Homo sapiens: one gene and its partners. The protein of the gene in region 3 purifies or fractionates together with the protein of the main gene of each other region. This does not show direct contact. Each region holds a gene or a part of one and is shown on either strand. Other genes may lie near its edges.

Evidence for each region.
Region 1: the proteins of STAM (region 3) and THADA fractionate together in Homo sapiens (co-fractionation; one large-scale study listed by BioGRID). This does not show direct contact.
Region 2: the proteins of STAM (region 3) and CLTCL1 purify together in Homo sapiens (affinity purification with mass spectrometry, with the first as the bait; one study listed by BioGRID). This does not show direct contact.

What each region holds. Positions count from the first base shown.
Region 1 is NC_000002.12:43,233,067-43,236,065, reverse strand, and holds part of THADA (tRNA (32-2'-O)-methyltransferase regulator THADA), read left to right. Parts: intron 1-2,999. UniProt on the Homo sapiens protein: Together with methyltransferase FTSJ1, methylates the 2'-O-ribose of nucleotides at position 32 of the anticodon loop of substrate tRNAs.
Region 2 is NC_000022.11:19,232,686-19,236,340, forward strand, and holds part of CLTCL1 (clathrin heavy chain 2), read right to left. Parts: intron 3,185-3,655; coding exon 3,011-3,184; intron 2,022-3,010; coding exon 1,824-2,021; intron 938-1,823; coding exon 737-937; intron 634-736; coding exon 481-633; intron 1-480. UniProt on the Homo sapiens protein: Clathrin is the major protein of the polyhedral coat of coated pits and vesicles. Two different adapter protein complexes link the clathrin lattice either to the plasma membrane or to the trans-Golgi network.
Region 3 is NC_000010.11:17,710,133-17,713,787, reverse strand, and holds part of STAM (signal transducing adapter molecule 1), read right to left. Parts: intron 520-3,655; coding exon of another isoform or gene 408-519; exon of another isoform or gene 1-407. UniProt on the Homo sapiens protein: Involved in intracellular signal transduction mediated by cytokines and growth factors. Upon IL-2 and GM-CSL stimulation, it plays a role in signaling leading to DNA synthesis and MYC induction. May also play a role in T-cell development.

The DNA of each region.
Region 1 (2,999 bases), on a different chromosome or scaffold from region 3:
AGGCCGAGGCAGGTGGATCACAAGGTCAGGAGATCGAGACCATCATGGCTAACACGGTGAAACCCCGTCTCTATTAAAAATTCAAAAAAAATTTAGCCGGGCGTGGTGGCGGGTGCCTGTAATCCCAGCTACTCGGGAGGCTGAGGCAGGAGAATGGCATGAACCCGGGAGACGGAGCTTGCAGTGAGCCGAGATCCCGCCACTGCACTCCAGCCTGGGCGACAGAGCGAGACTCTGTCTCAAAAAAAAAAAATGGTGCAGGATAGAGGCTACCTGTCCTGTCAGGTGGGGCTAGTGCAGCAGCCTAGCCTTCCTTGGTGGCATCTCTGGTCACCCCCATAGGTTCTTTATGGACTCAACAGGAATGTCACTTGAGCTGCAGATACTGATTTTGCTGATGGATGATGAAATTTTTTTCTTCCCTGTTGGGCTTTCAGTCCTTGCCTTAAGGAGACCATAAAAAAAGTGGTGGGAGGCCAGGTACAGTGGCTCATGGGTGTAATCCCAGCACTTTGGGAAGCCGAGGGGGCAGATCACTTGAGGTCAGGAGTTCGAGATCAGCCTGACTAACATGGAGAAACCCCGTCTCTACTAAAAATACAAAATTAGCCGGGTGTGGTGGCGCATGCCTGTAATCCCAGCTACTTGGGAGGCTGAGGCAGGAGAATCTCTTAAACCTGGGAAGCGGAGGTCGCGGTGAGCCGAGATGGTGCCACTGCACTCCAGCCTGGGCAACAAGAGCGAAACTCTGTCTCAAGACAAAACAACAACAACAAAAAAGTGATAAGCTGGGCACAGTGGTTCATGCCTGTAATCCCAGCGCATTGGAAGGCTGAGGCGGGTGAATCACTTGAGGTCAGGAGTTCAAGACTAGCCTGGCCAACATGGTGAAACCCCATCTCTACTAAAAATACAAAAATTAGCCAGCCATGGTGGCAGGAGCCTGTAATCCCAGTTACTCAGGAGGCCGAGGCAGGAGAATCGCTTGAACCCGGGAGGTGGAGGTTGCAGTGAGCTGAGATCACGCCACTGCACACAAGCCTGGGCAATACAGCAAGACTCAGTCTGAGAAAAAAAAAAAGAGTGATAAACCCACTGGGTGCAGCGGCTCATACCTGTAATCCCAGCACTTTGGAAGGCTGAGGTGGGTAGATCACTTGAGGTCAGGAGTTTGAGACCAGCCGGGCCAACATGGTGAAACCCAGTCTCTACAAAAAATACAAAAATTAGCTGGGCAAAAACAAAATTATCTGGGTGTGGTGGCACATGCCTATAGTCCCAGCTACTTGGGGGCTAAGGCAGGAGAATTGCTTGAACCCAGGAGGCGGAGGTTGCAGTGAGCCAAGATCACGCCACTGTACTCCAGCCTGGGCAACAGACTCTGTCTCAATCAATCAATAAAAGTTGAAGGGAAAAAAGAAAGAAAAAGGCCACTTAATTATCCCTTCTCTATACAGATTCTCAGCCAATTGAGAACTGCAGAAAGGAGTTAGGTAGAGGTAAAAATGGAGATTGTATTGTAGGTAGAGGCCCAGTCAACACATGGCTCAGACCCACAGCCAAAATGCACCTTCACCCCCTCCCCTTTTCTGTTTCCTGGTTTAAATCTGGGTTCTAGGCTGCAGAGCAAGCAGCATGGGGAACGGGGACACTAAAGGGCAAGTGTCCTGGGGGACTTATCTGGAGCTCTCAAGATGGTGAGATCAGTACTTTCACCTGCTTACATGCAACTAGGTGCTGCTGTGTGACCTCTGAATAGTCCTGGCCCTACTGCAGGGTCACTACCCCTGCTGACCCCACCATCAAAACCTCTGGATTGTTGATGCTGGGTCTCCAAATCTGCGCTTTGCATGCACCATGAAACTTGTTGCCAACTGTAATTTCTTGATGTGTGCAAGTGGGTTACATAATACCCAACCCATAGGATGCTAGAAGGACTGGGGAGACAGCATTTGATCAGGGCCTGGCACTCACTAGGCCCTCAGTGGGGCCATCCCAGTAAGCCTGGTTCAACACCCACGGGAACTAAGCCTGCTGTTGCAGATTCTCGGTCGTCTGCCTGTGTGCCGAGTAAGTCTTTCGGGGGCCAGATGGTCAGGGTAAGTCTGTGTGCTCAAGTTAGAGATGTGGATTTGGGAGTGATCAGGGCTCAATAGAAATGCATCATTGAAAGACAGGCCTTTCAATGTCAGTTGGTGCAAGATGGGCCTACAGAGGTCCATTGTGCAGTGGGCTTTCAGTCCCGTGTTTCAGACACCCTCCAGGTTTGGGATGGGAGGGGCAGAGTTGTTAGGGGAAGTGACAACACCCCTGAGCCTCCCTCCAAACCCATATTTAGGATTGTCTAAGGCCAAATGTTGAAATAAGCAATGGTTTCCCCAAGGCCCCCTGCTTCCTCTTTCTGCACCCTTCTATTCTTTCAGTGCCCTTCCTCCAAGCACCCAGGAAAACAAGGGTCCAAAAACAAAAAACTCCGAGACAGAGGGCAGCAAAATAGGAGCCAAATGCAGCCTACCACCTGCTTTTTACAGCCCATGAGCTATCAATGGTTTTTACATTTTTAATTGGTTGGGAAAAAATAATATTTTGTGACACATTAAATTCAAATTTCAGTGTCCATAAATAAAGTTTTATTGGAACACAGCCACAACCATTTGTTTACAGATTGTCCATGGCTGCTTTCAGCCGAGGTGAGGAGGTATAGGCTTGCAAAGTCTAAAATATTGACTCTCTGGCCCTTTAAGGAAAAGCTTGCCGATGCCCTGCTCTAGGATGTGTCTTGTGCCCAAGAGATCTGCTTTCCAAGGAAAGGGCAAACCAGTCAAATCCAGGCAGATGTGCAGAGGAGACACTGGACAGGGAAGCCTTCCTGATCCTTCTGGTGACACTGGAGGAGCAGAGGGGAGATAACTCTCTAATCCTGCAGATGGAACTGCTTCTGTCCACACTGAGTTAGGGGGCATGGAAACAGTGGGTTCAGGCCTATGACTCATTCTAAC
Region 2 (3,655 bases), on a different chromosome or scaffold from region 3:
GTGTTAACAAAGAAATGAGCAGCAACATTATCATGTGTAGGTACCACCTTCTGCCAAACACAATATCCAATTAAATGAATTGATTTAATGTACATGGAAGGCACAATTAACTATACAAAGAGCCCAGACCACAAAGAAGTTTCCTGATCTGTGTGCAAACACAGCCTGCCAGTAAGCACACAGGGATAAGATCTGGGAGTCTGCCAAAATATCAAATTAACATACAGAAGGAAGAGAGGGAGAGAAAAAACAAGATAAAGCTCCCAAATAAAACGAAGATGGAAGGACTGGAAAACTAAGGATAATAAAAAGCTGAAGAGAATAAAATATGATCATTATGAATAAAGATCCTAACAGCAACATTGCCAACTCTCACACCAGAGGACTTACAAAGAAGGGTATTTTATAAACTTTAAAATCAGCAACCACTCAACCACACGTGAGTAATCTGTGAGATGCCAGTGGTTCAACACACGTTACCTTTTTGGCATAGAGCACAATTTTCTGGAATTGGCCTGTTTCTGCAAAACACTGGATCACTTTGCTTGGCACATTTGCCCGAAGGTACACACTCAGAGCGAGCATGGGGTCAGTGGTTTTGACCAAGTCTCCGAGCTCCTCTGAGCACTCCAGCTGTGGTATGCCAAGGGACAAGGCAAAGTTAGGAGGCAGGTAGGGAGCCTGGACCAAGTTTTCAAGCTGTGCGGGGGGGCTACGAGCTCACAAGTGTTTCTACCTTATCTTCTTTCAGCCACTTCTCTAGGAGTTGCTTACGCCCCTGCTGAAGAACCAGATGGCAAAGTTCTAAGGATTCAAGTTTATTGAGCTGACCCTGGTCGAGCAGGATTCCGAAGTACTGCAGCAATGGAGAAGCCTGGCCAGACTGAGCGGGTATACTCTGGAATTTCTGGACCGTCTCTCTGGTACGCAGGATTCCCTAATAATAAATGGAAAAATAGGTCATTGTGTTGTAATCACAGGGGATCCCTTCACTCAACTTCCTTGTATGTAAAAACAAAAATCTGCCAGTGGAAATTCCACACTGCTCTGTCATAGACAAAAAGTCCTCTACCAAGGCAACTGCTTCTATCTTCAACAATAACCATAAGTATAGGGGAATCTAGGTCCTCCAGGTGGCTTCACACTTAGGGTCTTACTTCTCCCCCAGCATGCTGCAGTAAGAATTCGGCCTCTCAATCAGTCTTGTAGTAGTGAAGTTCTGCTATCATTATATTCTAATTCAAAATACTCAAATTCACAGATGAAGGCTAGAAATGGTTTGTTCACAACTACCCCTTGAAAGACAAGAAAAATTCTTTCAAGGACAAGCAACTTGAAAGTCTTTATCTACTCAGGAACAGATCCAGTCTCTGAACAATTTATCCAAATGAAATAAACCCAAGAAAAAGCCATATGCCGAAATGCTATATTCTAAAAGAGTGGAGAAAGTCCAGGGTAGGACTATCGCTAGATAAAACAGGGAACAACCACTTGATGTATTGTACAGTTGCATATTTGACAACCAGGTAGCAAGAGTGGAAAATGCTAAGTTACAGAAATGTGAAACTGTATCTAAGCTGTTGGGTGAGAGGTACGTATGCACACAAAGTGGGAGGCGTGAAGAAGTGCCGATGCAGCAAGAGTGTGTTTTTTGTTTACTTCCTTTACTGTTATGCCATTGGTGCAAAAATTTTAAACTAAAAACTCCTAACATAACACTAATAGACTGCAATATCACTAGTGAAATGCTTTTATGACTTATTTTCCTCTCAAGGTTGGTTCTTAACACTCAGAACACTTGAACAGTATTCAAGGTTTATCACCTTTGGTGCAGACGCTGCAACTTTGGCGGCTTCAGCATAGCTGCCCTGTGCAAAGAGGGTATTGAATTTTCTCACAAACAACTTCTCTGCCCCAGCCAGGTTACTACGAACGGCCAAACGCAGACCAAGGTCTGGATTCTGAAGCACGTTGGTTGCATAATTCACAATGTTATCTTCCTCAACACAAACTGACAGTACCTGTAAGGACACAACAAGTGAGAGCAGCCCGGCCTAGAAGAGTGCTCCACCATCCCTCTGCCATGTTCCCTTCCGATGCTGGAGTGGTAGCCACATTCTCAGGCGAGTGTTGAGCACACCTGTGATGGTGGCCCTCACAGTGAAAGGAGGCAAAGCAGCCGAAAGCCAAATGGTAACAAAACAGAACAGCATAGGAGTCTATGTAGTTATTAAAGTCACACAGATAAGTGTGATGCGTTCTGCGCTACAGCAAAATGACCTATGTGGATGGAACTGACAATTTTTCTTCTTAAACTTTTTATTTTTAAAGTACAGAGTTTCTTTCTTTTTTAAAAAATATTTTTGTAGAGACAGGGTCTTACTATGTCGCTCAGGCTGGATTCAAACTCCTAGCCTCAAGCAATCCTCCTGTCTCAGCCTTCCAAAGTGCTGGGATTATAGGAATCAGCCACTGTTCCCGACTTTTTTTTTTTTTTCCCCTGAGACAGGCTCTCACTGTTTCACCCAGGCTGGAGTGCAATGGTGTGATCACAGCTCACTGCAGCCTCAAACTCCTGGGCTCAAGCCATCCTCCTGCCTCAACCTCCCATGCAGTTGGGATTACAGGCATAAACTATTGTGCCCAGCCAAGAGTTTCTTCTTTTAACTATCTTTTTCAACTATGGTTGAGAAAAGTTACTTAAATACCATAGTATCTGCTTTTTCAACCCTCCCCAGTTAGGGTGTGCATGGTATAAAGATGATGTGCATCAGAACTGCTGTTCTATACGCAGGAAGGAGCTGCTCTCCTCCTGGAATCAATCCTGTGTTAGGAATGGTGCTGTCTGAAGAGAGGAAGTGTCAATATGAAGGAGGAGACATGGGTTTAAGTTTAATAACAGGAACTATTAATAGCTACACCCAGCTGCTTTCCTAGAGAAGGGGGAAAGTTTAAACGCCAGTCCCTAATGAATGGAAAAGGTAGAAAATGAAATGTCAGAGTTACACACCTGTCCCTTTTTGTTGACACCAATAATTCCAGAGGTTGGTTTGTGTGGAGCAGTGACAAATATTGTGTCAGCACTAATACGGTTCATGCAGATGCACACGCCAGACTCTAGGTCGTACAGATGAAGATAGCCATACTTTGTGATCAAGTAAATAACACCATGTTTAGCTCCAATCTATAAGAAGACAGAGAGCAAGAGGTTGGAAAGTAAGGAGGAGAAGCCATGCGGGTAAAAAGAGCTCACAAATGATAAAGAGGATTCTTGTTTGTTTGTTTGTTTTTTGAGATAGGGTCGTGCTCTGTCACCCAGGCTGGAGTGTAGTGGTGCCACCATAGCTCACTGCAACTTCCGACCTCTGGGCTCAGGTGATCCTCCCATCTCAGCCTCCAATGTAGCTGGGACTACAAGTGTGAGCTGCCACACCTAGCTATACAAGGATTCTTCAGTTTCTCAGGCCGAGAGATTACTGGTGGGAGCAATGCTTTCCTGAGACATGGATTCTAAGTTGTACTTGATTGAGAATTAGTTTTAAAGACAATATTTTGTCCAACCACTCTCAAATAAAGGTCCAATAAACTCAGGCTACTCCATTTATCTTTCAGGTAGAGCGATCCTTTCACAGTTTATCGAACCCCTTTAAGCAAG
Region 3 (3,655 bases):
GGGCTCCCTCTGGACCAGGATAGCTGACTGCAGGTTATTACGATCCACCAGGAGAGAGCCGACCAGCAGAAGAGCCACGGCAGTAATGGTGGAGATGGGAGAAAGGGTCAGAGTCTAGATAGATTTTGAAGATAATGCCTTCAAAATATGATAATGAACAGAAGAGTCCAGAATGCCTGAGGTTTAGAACCTAAAAACTGGTAGAAATAACTGGTAGAGTGGCCATTCACTGATTTTCAGAATACTATGATGGGACCATAGTAGACTCGGGGGTGGGAGGGGTGTGGGGAAGATCAAAGTAATAATCTTGGATCTGTCAAGTTTGATGTCCAAAAAACTGGCAAGCAAAGAGAATGCATAGGCAGTCAGCTATTCAAGCCTGTTGTCCTGCATAGGCAATCAGCTATTCAAGCCTGCTGTCCTGTGGGGAAGTACGGAGGAGAAATACGCATCTGGGAATCCTCGGCAGATCCACGGCATTCAGAATCACCGGGCTTCATGAGGTCCCCTGGGGAGCGGCTGCAAACAGAGAAAAAGGCAGTCCATCTACTGTGCACTGGACCTTGAAGTCCAGAAGATAAAGAGGCAAGAGGCAAATGAGGCTGAGAAGAAGTGGCGGTGAGGCAGAAGGGAAAAGAGAATGGTCACCAGCAAGTGAAGAAAGCATTTCAGAAAAGAGGAGGGAATCACGAACTGTCAAATGGAGGAGGAGGAGAATGGTGAACTGACCGGGAGTCTAGCAGTATGGGCATCACCAGGGTTCTTGACAAGAACGGTCCCAAAGGACTAGTGGAAGGGAAGGCCTCATAACCTCATTTCTTTTATTTCCTTGAAAATACGGAAGCACACGCTCCAACACCACACTGATCAACTCTCTGCAGCTGCACCCCTCACGTACTGAGCTTCCCTACCGCTCCCACCGCTCCGCTGCCAGTACTCCCATCTCAAGTCCCTGCACTTGTGCACTGCTCCCATTAAAAAAAGAAAGAAAAAAATTCTTCAAAGGGTTGTCTTTATCCACTGCCTCTACTTCCTGTCTTCCTGTTTCCAACGGAATACATGCGTTTCCACTGTAAGACACTAGGTTAGCTATGTGAAGAGAAGTACTAAGATGCTGAGAATTCCCCCTACATTTGTATTAAAAATGTAAAACAAGCAATATAAAAAGCAACTGCCAAATTTTCAAAATACTGCCTACTTCTAAACTTTCCTCCAATTGTTATTTATAAATCTATTGTTGGGAAATTCAGTGCTCTTGTACTTGGCACAAATTCATTATTTGATGGTAATTTATTATAAGAGACGGTAATTTAATGCTACATTTCTCCAACTAATGTGGTGACCTAAGGCATTATTTGTCATCACTCCATATGTGTGAGATATAAAGTTGATTAGGAGATGTCAAATTTCATACTATTATTGACAATGGTATGGGCTATAATATTGCCGTAATATAGAGTCTATGCGCTGGGTTCTGGAGTCAGAATGTCTGGTTTAGAATCTTAGCTAAGTGGGACTTCCGTTTTGTCTCCAGGTCTCAGCTTCCCCATCTATAAAATGGGGGTAATAGTTTACCGACTTCACAGGTTATTATGAGGAATAAGTTACTTTGTGTAAAGCATACAGCACAGTGCTTGGAACATACTAAATACCCCTTAAATGTTAGCATTATTGTAATCATTCTCAATTTACAGTTCCACCGTCCACCCAGTTGCCTGGGGCAAAACCATGCAATTCACCAATACTTCTTTCTCTTATCTCTGCACTGAGCTGTCTCCCAACCATGTCACCCAATGTGTAATTATTTGCTAATCTCCTAAATAACTCTTTCCAATTAATAGCACTGTATCTTGCCAACAAATACTCATAATTTCTTGCCTAATATCCATGGTCTCCCAGCTTCTAATCTTGCCCCTATGAATCCATCTACGCTACTGCCATTTAAAGCCCTTTCTGAACTTTTTCATTATCCCTAAGATGGTATCTAGAACAAGCATTCTTCGACCTTGGCAGTGTCTTCAAGTATGTCTCTCGCTGCTCCCCTACACGCTTTCAACCCTTGGTAAGTGTGCTGCTGGAATGCCGATACATACCACGCCTTTCACACCTCCCATCTTTGCTCACTCCATGGGTACCATGCCATTCCAGGCTACCACATCTCTGACGTGACAGAACATCTTCCTCACTTTTTTTCTACTGGCTAAGAATAACCCTCTTGGAAAACTTCCTCAAACCCTGAGGCTCCTAAGGTACAAGGCATATATCTTCTTTATTTATAAATCATGTTGTATAAAATTATATTTTTTTATGTGTTTGCCCCTACTACTCAGTAAGCACCTTGAAGCTAAAGAAGACTCTCAGGTGTCTAACACAGTGCCTGGCACATGCTGACTGTAGTAAACTAAAATCAGAGACAAATAAATACATAAGCTTCAGTGGTCTCAAAATACTAACAGTAATTGTCACTTATTATCACCTTATAATACTACCATCGCTACAGGTAGCTTTAGAAAACCGTCATCAGTGACACCTTCCCCAACTAACAATAAGACTGTCCTAGGATGACAGAAGTCTGAAAAACAGTGAGCTTTAACACCAAAATTTTATGTAACAAGAGATAGCCTCTCAGATATATATAAACTGAGGAGTGCTAAAAAACCTGCCTACCAAAAACAACAACAATCCTCACTGACCTTGATTTGCCGCTAGAAAGCTCGAGTCAAATACGCAGGACACCTCTAGTAAGGAAATTTCTAACCCTGGCCCTCGCTCCTTCCAATTTCCTCATCCTACATTTGCTCTACCAGCAATTCCTCATTTCCCCGTTGAAACACACAAACACACATCTGTTTTTATATATTGATAAACAGATATTACATATTGTACCTTTATATATAGATATTTAAATGGCCTCTAAGCCTTTGTGAAGCCTTTGCAAGGAATTTTTAAAAAATACACCTAACTGGTCTAATATAGCACTTGAAATTGTCATTAACACTAAAACATGTATTCATAAAATATTTACTGAGTTCCTAGCCAGTGTAAAACTGTGTGCTACATAGGATGGCTATAGAGGTGAAAGACAGTGCCAGCTCTCAAGATACTGTCTTCAGTGGGGATACAAACAAGTAAAAAGGCAACTACCAGCCAGGAAACGGAAGTACACACACAGTCCTCTGACAGCACACAGGAGGAACAGTGCTGAGAGGTGGAAAAGCAAGGAAGATGTCCCAGTAAAAATGCAGCTAAGCTAACAACTAAAGAATATGCAGGAATGAGCCAGGACGAGAGGGCTAAATATTTCAAGAAAATGTTCTTCAAAAGACACCTGTTGAAATAAACATGTGTTCCTTGAGAGGTGACATTAATAGCTACACTCTATGGGTAGGGTTGGGCCTATGCCAGGGATTTCACATCCCGAATGCAGAAGCAGAGTCACACACAGAGAACAGCAGCAGGGTACCACAGCGCTACAGAACTTCACTGTTAAAGCACCTACCAACAGGTTATCTCATTCACAAGGATAATTTCCCAAGGCCCCGACCTTGAAGAATGAGTCTCAAGTAATCTCTAGTAACAAGGAAGGTAGAGCAGCATGTGACATAGTCAAACAGAGGACTAGCAGGGGAAAAGTGGCAGTTCCGGCTAATACTAA